2 linked regions of the Homo sapiens genome follow. The protein of the gene in region 1 interacts with the protein of each later gene in a pairwise test. Each region holds a gene or a part of one and is shown in the gene's direction. Other genes may lie near its edges.

Region 1 (3,575 bases):
AACTTCAATCTGACAACCCCTAAGAAGGTCTTCCCTGGTTCTGGCTTGCAGGGATATCAGGAGTATGCAGGTGACTCCCAAAGCAGAAAGGTCATAAAGGACAAGGGCAGGTTAGATGGGTCCATTGAGAGACGGAGAAGCCCCCTGCTCCTCACTGAGTTGTGGTCAGGGGCAGTGGAGAAAGGTCTGAGGTCCAAGGGGACCCCAAGTCTGAATATAACGCAGCCACAGAATGCCTGTGCTGAAGTGAGACTGCTCCAGGGAGACAAGCAGTAGCACAATGTCCCGAGTTGAGGGGTTGGGGTTGTCCTCCCCTGGCCCAGGGAACACTATGCCCAGGGCAGCCTGATGTCACAACTGGTAAGGACCACTGGAGCCTGAGTCGGGAGGAAAACAGCCTGGGTGGTCATAAAGAATGGCAGAGGGCCAGAGCAGGGATGTGGCAAGACTGACACCCTTGAAGTCACCAGAAAGCTATCCCCTTGGACTTGGGCAGAAGTGTCTCTTAATATGATGATGTATTATCATTAATAGTTGCCACCTGCTACCATGTATTGAGCACCTATTGTGTGCCAGACCTAGCACTTAGCTCTTTACATGGGTTATCTCATGTGATCATTGTAAGAACCCTAAGGAGGTTTTTCTTACTATCCTCCATTTTACAGGTAAGAAAACTGAGGCTCAAAGAGGTTAAATCAGTTGTTCCAGGTGCATAGCTTGGGCACCTAGCTTGCAAGTGACAAGGCGAGCCCAATGCCACCCACACCAGCTCTGGTTCTTTGCCTCCAGCCCTGGCTCCTTTCTCCAACCATCTTCCCTCTCTGCCCCGGGCAGGTGGGGAGAAAAGGAAGAAAGAGAGGCCCACGTCATGTGTTTCAGCTTCCCTTTCCCTCTCTGCTGGTGCCCACTGGCCCTCACACCCATTTCTTGTTGCAGGAAGGTGAACAAGTGCTACCGGGGCCGCTCCTGCCCCATCATCGTGCACTGCAGGTGGGTGGAGAGGAGATTCATCTCTCTGGTCCCACTCCCTGTGTGCGTCTCCTGTGCACATTGCCTGCCTGTCCCCTTGGTGCTAGCAAACTGCAGGCATAGTCCAAATCCAGCACACCACCTGTTTTTAATGGCCAAGACCTAAGCGTGGCATTCACAGTTTTAAATGGGTGAAGAAAAAAGAAGAAAAGTATGTGATACAAACTGTATGTGGCCCACAAAGTTGAAAATATTGACCATTGGCCCCCTATACACAAAAAGCTGGCTGAAGGCTAGAGAGGCCCATCCAATTCCCTCCTGCTGCCTCTGCTTCTGGGCTGAGCCATGGCTCTCCTCTTTGGTTGTCCCATTGCCCAAATGACACCCACAGGTCACAGACTCCCCTCTCAAGGCCCAAGTCCCAGCGTGCAGGTGCTATGAGCTTTCCTTCATCCTCGGCTCACTGTCCCTCTCCAAGCCAACCCCAACGGGTCACCCAGTGTCCTCCCCTCCCCCAGGCCTCCAGGCCTCCTCGCCTCCTCCGTCCCTCCCCCTTTCTGCTGCATCTCAAGCTAAACCTGTCACTAACTCCTGTTTCAGTGATGGTGCGGGGAGGACCGGCACCTACATCCTCATCGACATGGTCCTGAACCGCATGGCAAAAGGTAGGGAGCTTCCCCACGGTGCCCGCAGCCCCCAGGCCCTTTTTAGAGGCTCCCCAGCACACAGGGTCCTGGGAGCTCAGAAGGAGCAGGTTGTCAACCTCCAGGCTCTGCCCAGCCCTCCAAGGCTCTTTGCCTCCAGGAGGCCTCAGGTTTTCTGGGTCCTGTCCTCCTCTGGACACCCCCTGAGCAGCCCCATCCCCACCTCCATCTCCAGGAGTGAAGGAGATTGACATCGCTGCCACCCTGGAGCATGTCCGTGACCAGCGGCCTGGCCTTGTCCGCTCTAAGGTGACCATGCCTTCCTGCCCCAACCCCAGCTCCCACCCTTCCCTAGCACCCACTTCTTGGCCACCCCAGGGAAAGCAGCAGCTGCCAACCTTTCCCACCTGCTTCTGCGCCTCCTCCAGGAGGGCTCCCTTCCTCCCAGGGGACCTGCCCAGGGCCCTCCCCCCACCAAAAGCCCCCCATCTTGAGGGCAGAGCACAGGTCAGCCCTCTCCATGACCATCCTACCACTGCCCTTCCTCAGGACCAGTTTGAATTTGCCCTGACAGCCGTGGCGGAGGAAGTGAATGCCATCCTCAAGGCCCTGCCCCAGTGAGACCCTGGGGCCCCTTGGCGGGCAGCCCAGCCTCTGTCCCTCTTTGCCTGTGTGAGCATCTCTGTGTACCCACTCCTCACTGCCCCACCAGCCACCTCTTGGGCATGCTCAGCCCTTCCTAGAAGAGTCAGGAAGGGAAAGCCAGAAGGGGCACGCCTGCCCAGCCTCGCATGCCAGAGCCTGGGGCATCCCAGAGCCCAGGGCATCCCATGGGGGTGCTGCAGCCAGGAGGAGAGGAAAGGACATGGGTAGCAATTCTACCCAGAGCCTTCTCCTGCCTACATTCCCTGGCCTGGCTCTCCTGTAGCTCTCCTGGGGTTCTGGGAGTTCCCTGAACATCTGTGTGTGTCCCCCTATGCTCCAGTATGGAAGAATGGGGTGGAGGGTCGCCACACCCGGCTCCCCCTGCTTCTCAGCCCCGGGCCTGCCTCTGACTCACACTTGGGCGCTCTGCCCTCCCTGGCCTCACGCCCAGCCTCCTCCCACCACCCTCCCACCATGCGCTGCTCAACCTCTCTCCTTCTGGCGCAAGAGAACATTTCTAGAAAAAACTACTTTTGTACCAGTGTGAATAAAGTTAGTGTGTTGTCTGTGCAGCTGCAACCCAGACTCCTACGCATTTCTGTCCGCTGTGCATCTGGACTCCAGCCCCAGCCTCAGCCCGGAGCCGGTCCCTGCTGGTCTCTCAGGAGGTGCAGAGAGCACAGCAGGAGAGCGCCAGCTGCCAGTAAGGCCCTTCTAGGTGGGAACACTACGTTAGAACGAGGCTTCCTATGCAGCCAGCAGTCTCCAAGGTGCTTTACATGATGAGTCCCATTTTACAGATGGAAAGACTGAGGCACAGAACTTGCTTGTGGTAACACGTAACACAACTTGTAAGATTGTAAGGTGCAATGGCTCATGCCTGTAATCCCAGCTCTTTGGGAGGCTGAGGCAGGCAGATCACCTGATGTCAGGAGTTGGAGACCAGCCTGGCCAACATGGAGAAATCCCGTCTTTACTAAAAATACAAAATTAGCCGGCCATGGTGGCTCGCGCCTGTAATCCCAGCACTTTGGGTGGCTGAGGCAGGCATATCACCTGAGGTCAGGAGTTCGAGACCAGCCTGGCCAACATGGCAAAACCCTGTCTCTACTAAAAATACAAAAAAATTAGCCATGTGTAGTGGCGGGTACCTGTAATCCCAGCTACTTGGGAGTCTGAGGCAGGAGAATCACTTGAACCCGGAAGGTGGAGTTTGCAGTGAGCCGAGAGTGTGCCGCTGCACTCCAGCCTGGGTGACAGAGTGAGACCCTGTCTCAAAAAAAAAAAAAAAAAAGATTGTAAGGTGGAGTTAGAGTT
Region 2 (7,296 bases), on another chromosome or scaffold:
CAGCCTGGCCAGCATGGTGAAACCCCGTCTCTACTAAAAATACAAAAATGAGCCAGGCGTGGTGGCGGGCGCCTGTAATCCTAGCTACTGGGGAGGCTGAGGCAGGAGAATCGCTTAAACCTGGAGGTGGAGGTTGCAGTGAACCGAGATCGCGCTACTGCACTCCAGCCTGGGCAACAGAGTAAGAATCTGTCTCAAACACACAAACAAACAAAAAACAAAGAAGTTTCATTTGACTCAGTTCTGACATAAGCACAATTTTCACTCAAATATACAGAATCTGAGATGCTCTGAATCCATCCATCATTCAGTCAACAAATCACTACATTCACTAGGCTACAGCTCTGGGCTCCACCCTTTGCTGGGCAGTGTTTGGGATAGGGTGTGACAGACCCAGGTCCTGCCCTTAAGGAGCTCTCAGTCCAGTGGGGGAGACAGGACAAGGCAATGACAACACAGAGTAGTCAGGGCTAGGATGGGGAAGCAGAGAAGCCTGAGAGGGTCGAGGAGGAGCCTGCTCCAGCCTTGGGGTGTCAGGGAAGGCTGCCTGGAGGAGGAGCCACGTGACCCGGCATCTGATGAAGTCACACCAAGGACAGGGTAGGTAGCCCGCACCATCCTCTCTTGGGCGCCCCTTGGCTTGTGACCAATCCTGGATGCTCCCCTTCTCCTGGCTCAGGCTACCAGCCCTGCGACCCGCAGGTCATCTGCAACCGCGTGAACCACGTGCACGGCTGCCTGGCGGAGCTGCAGGAGCAGGCAGCGCGGCGACGCGCGGAGCTGGAGGCTTCGCGGAGCCTGTGGGCGCTGCTGCAGGAGCTGGAGGAGGCCGAGAGCTGGGCGCGCGACAAGGAGCGTCTCCTGGAGGCTGCGGGCGGCGGCGGTGCGGCGGGCGCAGCGGGCGCAGCGGGAACAGCGGGCGGCGCGCATGACCTGTCCAGCACAGCGCGCCTCCTGGCCCAGCACAAGATCCTGCAGGGCGAGCTGGGCGGGCGGCGAGCGTTGCTGCAGCAGGCCCTGCGGTGTGGCGAGGAGCTGGTTGCGGCCGGCGGTGCCGTCGGCCCGGGAGCAGACACCGTGCACCTGGTAGGCCTGGCGGAGCGCGCGGCGAGCGCCCGGCGCCGCTGGCAGAGGCTGGAAGAGGCGGCGGCGCGGCGAGAGCGGCGGCTGCAGGAGGCGCGGGCGCTGCACCAGTTCGGCGCTGACCTCGACGGGCTGCTGGACTGGCTTCGCGACGCTTACCGCCTGGCAGCCGCCGGTGACTTCGGCCACGACGAAGCTTCCAGCCGCCGCCTGGCGCGCCAGCACCGCGCGCTCACCGGGGAGGTGGAGGCACATCGCGGGCCCGTGAGCGGCCTGCGGCGCCAGCTGGCGACACTCGGGGGTGCCAGTGGCGCAGGGCCACTGGTGGTGGCGCTGCAGGTGCGCGTGGTGGAAGCAGAGCAGTTGTTCGCTGAGGTGACCGAAGTGGCGGCGCTGAGGCGCCAGTGGCTGCGGGACGCGCTCGCTGTCTACCGCATGTTTGGCGAGGTGCACGCGTGTGAGCTGTGGATCGGCGAGAAGGAGCAATGGCTGCTCTCCATGCGTGTGCCGGATTCACTCGACGACGTCGAGGTGGTGCAGCACCGGTGAGCGCGCACATGTGGGACTCCGGGGTCCCCTTCCTCATGCACCCAGTCTCACCTTCATTGGCTCAACAGTTCCCATGTTTGCTCAGCTGGAACTAGGAGTTCCAATCCCTGCTTCACCCATAGCCAGCTTTGTGACAGTTCTGCAACCTGCCTAATCTTCCTGAACCTCAGCTTGCCCACCTGTATAATGGGGGTGATATTAGTCCCTACCCAGGCTTGTGATGAACGGTAAATGAGTTCATACATGCAGAATACGAAGCAAATGCCTGGGGGTAGAGGAAGCATTCCCCCAGCATTTGCTCTTGTTACCCAGGCTTACATTCGCCAAGCATGAAATCAACGACCTATGCTTCTACAGGGACACCTCAGCCTGGCCCCTCTGCTGGGAGGCCTCCCATTGCTTCTGCATAAATGTCACCTCCCTAGCTACTAAAATAGCTCTGACTCTTGTGATTTTCCATTGTTTCATCCTGTTTTACATTTCTTTGTAGCACTTACCATCCCATGACATATTGTATACTGACTTGTCTGTTGGCTGACTTAGCAATGAGTTGTTCAATTAGTGGGTGAACAATGCCTATTCCCCCTCTGCACCACTCTGTCTGAGCATCTTATTCATCCATACATTCATTCAGCAGGTGTTTACTGAGTGCCTATGCCTTTCTAGGTCTTGTGCTGGGCACTGCTGGAAACACAGGGCTGCTCCTTGCCCCTACTGTGCCTGCAGTTGCCCAGTTCTTTGAAACATTGATTTAAAGATGGGAGGACCATGTCTAGCTTAAAGTAGACCTCAGTGGCTGCCATGTGGAGGGCAGGTTGGAGCGGGTAAGAGTTGTGGCTGGGAACCCAGAGAGGCAACTGGGCTGGGGACCCAGATGGAGCGGAACAAGATTAGACCAGGGCGGGAGGTAAGTAAACAGGCCATGGAGACTGATGGGCTGGAGCGATTTTCCAAAACAAAGCCCAGGGCTCTGGCCTGGCAGATGACAGTGCTGTCCCCAACATGGGGGCCCAGAGGAAGAACAAATTTGAGTCAGGTGGGTGTGAATAGCCCCAAGAAGGTATACAGTAGGCTTTGAGGTCGAAGACAGGTTCAAAAGGTAAGAGGTTGAGGCTGGAGACTGAGGTGTGACTGTCATGAGTTCAGGGGCAAAGACCAAGGCTGTGGGGCTGGGTGGAATCATTGAAGAAGGGTGTGAAGGAAAACCCAGAGGGCTCAGGGTGGAGTTGCTGCTGAGGAATCTCACATTTAAACATCAGGTAGAGGCTGGGCGTGGTGGCTCACGCCTGTAATCCCAGTACTTTGGGAGGCCAAGGCAGGTGGATCATATAAGATCAGGAGTTGGAGACCAGCCTGGCTAACATGGTGAAATCCCGTTTCTACTAAAAATAGAAAAGTTAGCTGGGCGTGGTGGCGCATGCTTGTAATCCCAGCTACATGGGAGGCTGAGACATGAGAATCGCTTGAATCCGGGAGGCAGAGGTTGCAGTGAGCCACAATCGCGCCACTGCACTCCAGCCTGGGTGACAGAGCGAGACTCTGTCTCAATACATACATACATAAATTAATTAAATTAAATTAAATAAGTTAAATTAAATTAAATAAAATAAGCAGCAAGTAGAAGAGAAGGAGCCCACAAAGGAGGCTGAAAAGAAGGGTGGATTGAGAATTAGGAGTAGAACCAGTAGAAGGTATTTCATAAAACCAAGGTCCGCAGGGTTCGGGTGTCTGAGCATCTCCATCCTCCTGCAGATTCGAGAGCCTGGACCAAGAGATGAACAGCCTGATGGGCCGCGTTCTGGACGTGAACCACACAGTCCAGGAGCTGGTGGAAGGAGGCCACCCCAGTTCAGATGAGGTGCGTTCCTGCCAGGACCACCTCAACAGCAGGTAGGAGGGCCTGGGGCTGGGAGTCCCTCCCATCCTTCCCTTCCACACTCACACAGCCATGGACAGCAAGATGTGCAATCTCAAACCCCTGGAATCATAATGGCCACCCGATAAATCAACAAAATGTTGACCAAAAATCATAATCCCTGATACTGGTGATGACGTGGTAAAATTAAAACAACATTTCAGTTGGCTGTTCATTTATTTGTCCAGAAAGAATGTATTGGATATCTACAATCTGCCAGGAGTATTCCCAAGCACTTTATATACCTTTCTAAAGTATCCCAACATTCTTCCGGGCACAGTGGCTCATACTGTAATCCCAGCACTTCAGGAGGCTGAGATGGGTGGATCACTTGAGCTCATGAATTCAAGACCAGCCTGGGCAACATGGTGAAACCCCGTCTCTCTCTCTACGTGCGCGCACACACACACACACACACACACACACAAAATATATATATACACACACATATATATACACACATATATACGTATATATACACATATATACGTATATATACACATATATACGTATATATACACATATATACGTATATATACACACATATACGTATATATACACATATATATGTATATATATATACACACTATATATATGTATATATATATACAAAATTTAGCCAAGCATGGTGGTGCACATTTGTAGTCCCAGCTACATGGGAGGCTGAGTTGGGAGGATGCCTTGAGCCCAGGAGGTAGAGATTGCAGTGAGCAGAGATTGTGCCACTGCACTCCAGCCTGGGCAATAGAGCCAGACCTTGTCTCAAAAAAAAAAAAAAAAAAATTCCCAATATCCCAATTTCCATAGTAAAGATCCTAGAATTCAGAACTCTCTCTCTCTCTCTTTTGAGACAGGATCTTGCTCTGTTGCCCAGGTTGGAATACAGTGGCATGATCATGGCTCATTGCAGCCTCCAACACCTAGGCTCAAGCGATCCTCCCACCTCTGCCTCCTGAGGAACTGGGACTACAGGTGCATATCACCATGCCCAGCTAATTAAAAAAAATTTTTTTTGTAGAGACAGGGTCTCACTGTGTTGGCCATGCTGGTCTTACAACTCCTGGGCTCGGCTGGGCGTGGTAGCTCACACCTGTAATCCCAGCACTTTGGGAGGCCAAGGCAGGTGGATCACCTGAGGTCAGGAGTTCGAGACCAGCCTGACCAATATGGTGAAACCCCATCTCTACTAAAAATACAAAAATTATCCGGGCATGGTGGCATGTGCCTGTAGTCCTAGCTACTCAGGAGGCTGAGGCAGAAGAATTGCTTGAACCCGGGAGGCAGAGGCTACAGTGAGCCAAGATCACACCACTGCACTCCAGCCTAGGTGACAGAGCAAGAATCTATACCAAAACAGACAAACAAACAAACAAACAAACAAAAACCTCCTGGCCTCCTCCCACCTTGGCCTTCCAAAGAGCTGGGATTACAGTGTAAGCTACTGCTCCTAGCCCAGAACTCTTTAAGATAAGTAACAAACTAATATCAGTACCTCTGGAATACTACCAGCAATTCTCCCAGTGCAGGTGGGGTTCATAGATGAAGATACAAGTCCAAAAAGGTGAACTCCTTATCCAAGATTACTCAGTCTATAAGTAGGAGTCAAATACAGTTCTGGCTGAATCCTGAGCTGTAGCTGTTTATCTAATATATCCAGTCTTCCTGGTAACACTATGAGGTGGAAACTACCCCACATTAGAGAGGAGAAAACTGGATCTCAGAGAGGCGAAGATGGAGGCCCAAGGTTACACAGCAAGTTAGGGGATCAAACCGGGCTTTGAAGATGGATATGTTTGACTTCAAAGACTGTGCTCTTTTTTTTTTTTTCTTTCTTGAGACAGGGTCTTGCTCTTTCGCCCAGACTGGAGTGCAGTGGTACGATCATGGCTCACTACAGCCTTCACCGCCCCCGACCCGAGCTCAAGAAATCCTCCTGCCTCAGCCTCTTGAGTAGTGGGACTATGGATGCACACCACTGCACCCGGCTAATTTTTGTATTTTTTGTACAGATGGGGTCTCACTCTGTTGCCCAGACTGGTCTCGAACTCCTGGGCTCAAGTGATCTTCTGCCTTGGCCTCCGCAAGTGCTGGAATTACAGGCATGAGCCACTCTGCCCCACCCAAAGACTACGCTCTTGACTCTGTGCTGCAAGATTCCAATATCCAGGGATTTTAAAACCTCTGTAGCCAAGACCATCGCAAAGCATCCAGGCCTAAAAAAATAACTACAATCATAACGATTTACAGCATGTAGAGAGATCTATATGCCAAGTGCTTTAGCCACATGATCTCGTTACACACTCAATGAAGTGGACTTTATTATCCCCATTTTCCAGATGAGGAAACTGAAGATCAGAGAAGGAAATGATTTGCCCAAGGTCACATGGCAAATCTGGCCAGAGCAGAACTTGAACTCGGGTCTGCCTGATTTCAGAGTCCTAATCTCTGTCCTCATGGTGTGTCCATTCTAGAGGGGGCAGAAAGACAGTTAAATACACTAATAAATGGACAAGATATTTAGAGAATCATAATGGCTTTATGCAAGAAACAGGCAGGGCATGGTGGCTCACGCCTGTAATCCTAGCATTTTGGGAGGCCGAGGCAAGCAGATCACTTGAGGTCAGGAGTTTGAGACCAGCCTGGCCAATGTGATGAAACCCCATCTCTATTAAAAATATAAAAACTAGCCGGGTGTGGTGGTGCACGCCTGTAATCCCAGCTACTTGGGAGGCTGAGGCAGGAGAATCCCATGAACCTGGGAGGCGGAGGTTGCAGTGAGCTGAGATCGTGCCACTGCACTCCAGCCTGGGCAACAGAGCAAGACTCTGTCTAAAAAAGAAAACAAAATTTAAAAAACCCAAACTATTGAGGACCCCAAGAGCTTGTTTTAGTGGGTCATATCTATTGCTATTTACTATATTAGAACTTAGTACTGAGAAAATTTAAAATGTTTTTATTTTTATTTATTTATTTTGAGACAGGGTCTCATTACTCTGTCACCCAGGCTGGAGTGCAGTGGCACAATCATGGCTCACTGCAGCCTCGACTTCGCAGGCTCCAGCAATCCTCCCATCTCAGCCTCCCAAGTAGCTGGGACCATAGGTGTGCACCCCCACGCCCAGCTAATTTTTGTATTTTAGGAGTCTCACCATGTTGCCCAGGCTGCTCTCCAACTCCTGAGCTCAAGCGATCCACCTGCTTCCGTCTTCCAAAGTGCTGGGATTACAGGTGTGAACCACTGCACCCGGCTGAGAAATTTGAAAACATTATTTAAAAATAACAATACACTGGGAGTGGTGCGTGCCTGTTAGACCTGTGAGGCTGAGGTGGGAGGACCGCTTGAGCCTGCGAATTGGAGGCTTCAGTGTGCCATAAACGAGTTCATGAATAGCCACTGCGTTCTAGCCTGGGCAACATAGTGAGATCTCACGTCTTAAAAAAATTTTTTTAAATCTAAATATCTAACGTGTTAATATAACTTTTTTATTAAAAATAACTTTTCATAACACAAAATGTACTAAGAGTGGCATTGTTTCGTACCTTTGCAAATCTCTTTAAAGTCTGGTTTAAGAGATGGCAGCTGGGCTTCTCTTAAATCAGAGTCGGCTTCTGCTCTCAGTCTCTCCTGCCGCCTCTGGAAAACTCCACTGAACACTCGGGAAAGAATGAGAGTGAAAAAGCAAATGGCGTCTTAACACATTTTTATGAAGATAGTTTTGTCCTCTATCAGATTACATGTTGAGAATGGC

The links.
Region 2: the proteins of PTPRN (region 1) and SPTBN4 interact in a two-hybrid assay, tested with the Homo sapiens proteins (one study listed by BioGRID and IntAct).

What each region holds. Positions count from the first base shown.
Region 1 is NC_000002.12:219,288,885-219,292,459, reverse strand, and holds the end of PTPRN (receptor-type tyrosine-protein phosphatase-like N isoform 1 precursor), read left to right. Parts: intron 1-936; coding exon 937-990; intron 991-1,569; coding exon 1,570-1,634; intron 1,635-1,848; coding exon 1,849-1,922; intron 1,923-2,162; coding exon 2,163-2,234; 3' UTR 2,235-2,837; downstream 2,838-3,575. UniProt on the Homo sapiens protein: Plays a role in vesicle-mediated secretory processes. Required for normal accumulation of secretory vesicles in hippocampus, pituitary and pancreatic islets.
Region 2 is NC_000019.10:40,511,927-40,519,222, forward strand, and holds part of SPTBN4 (spectrin beta chain, non-erythrocytic 4), read left to right. Parts: intron 1-679; coding exon 680-1,628; intron 1,629-3,384; coding exon 3,385-3,522; intron 3,523-7,296.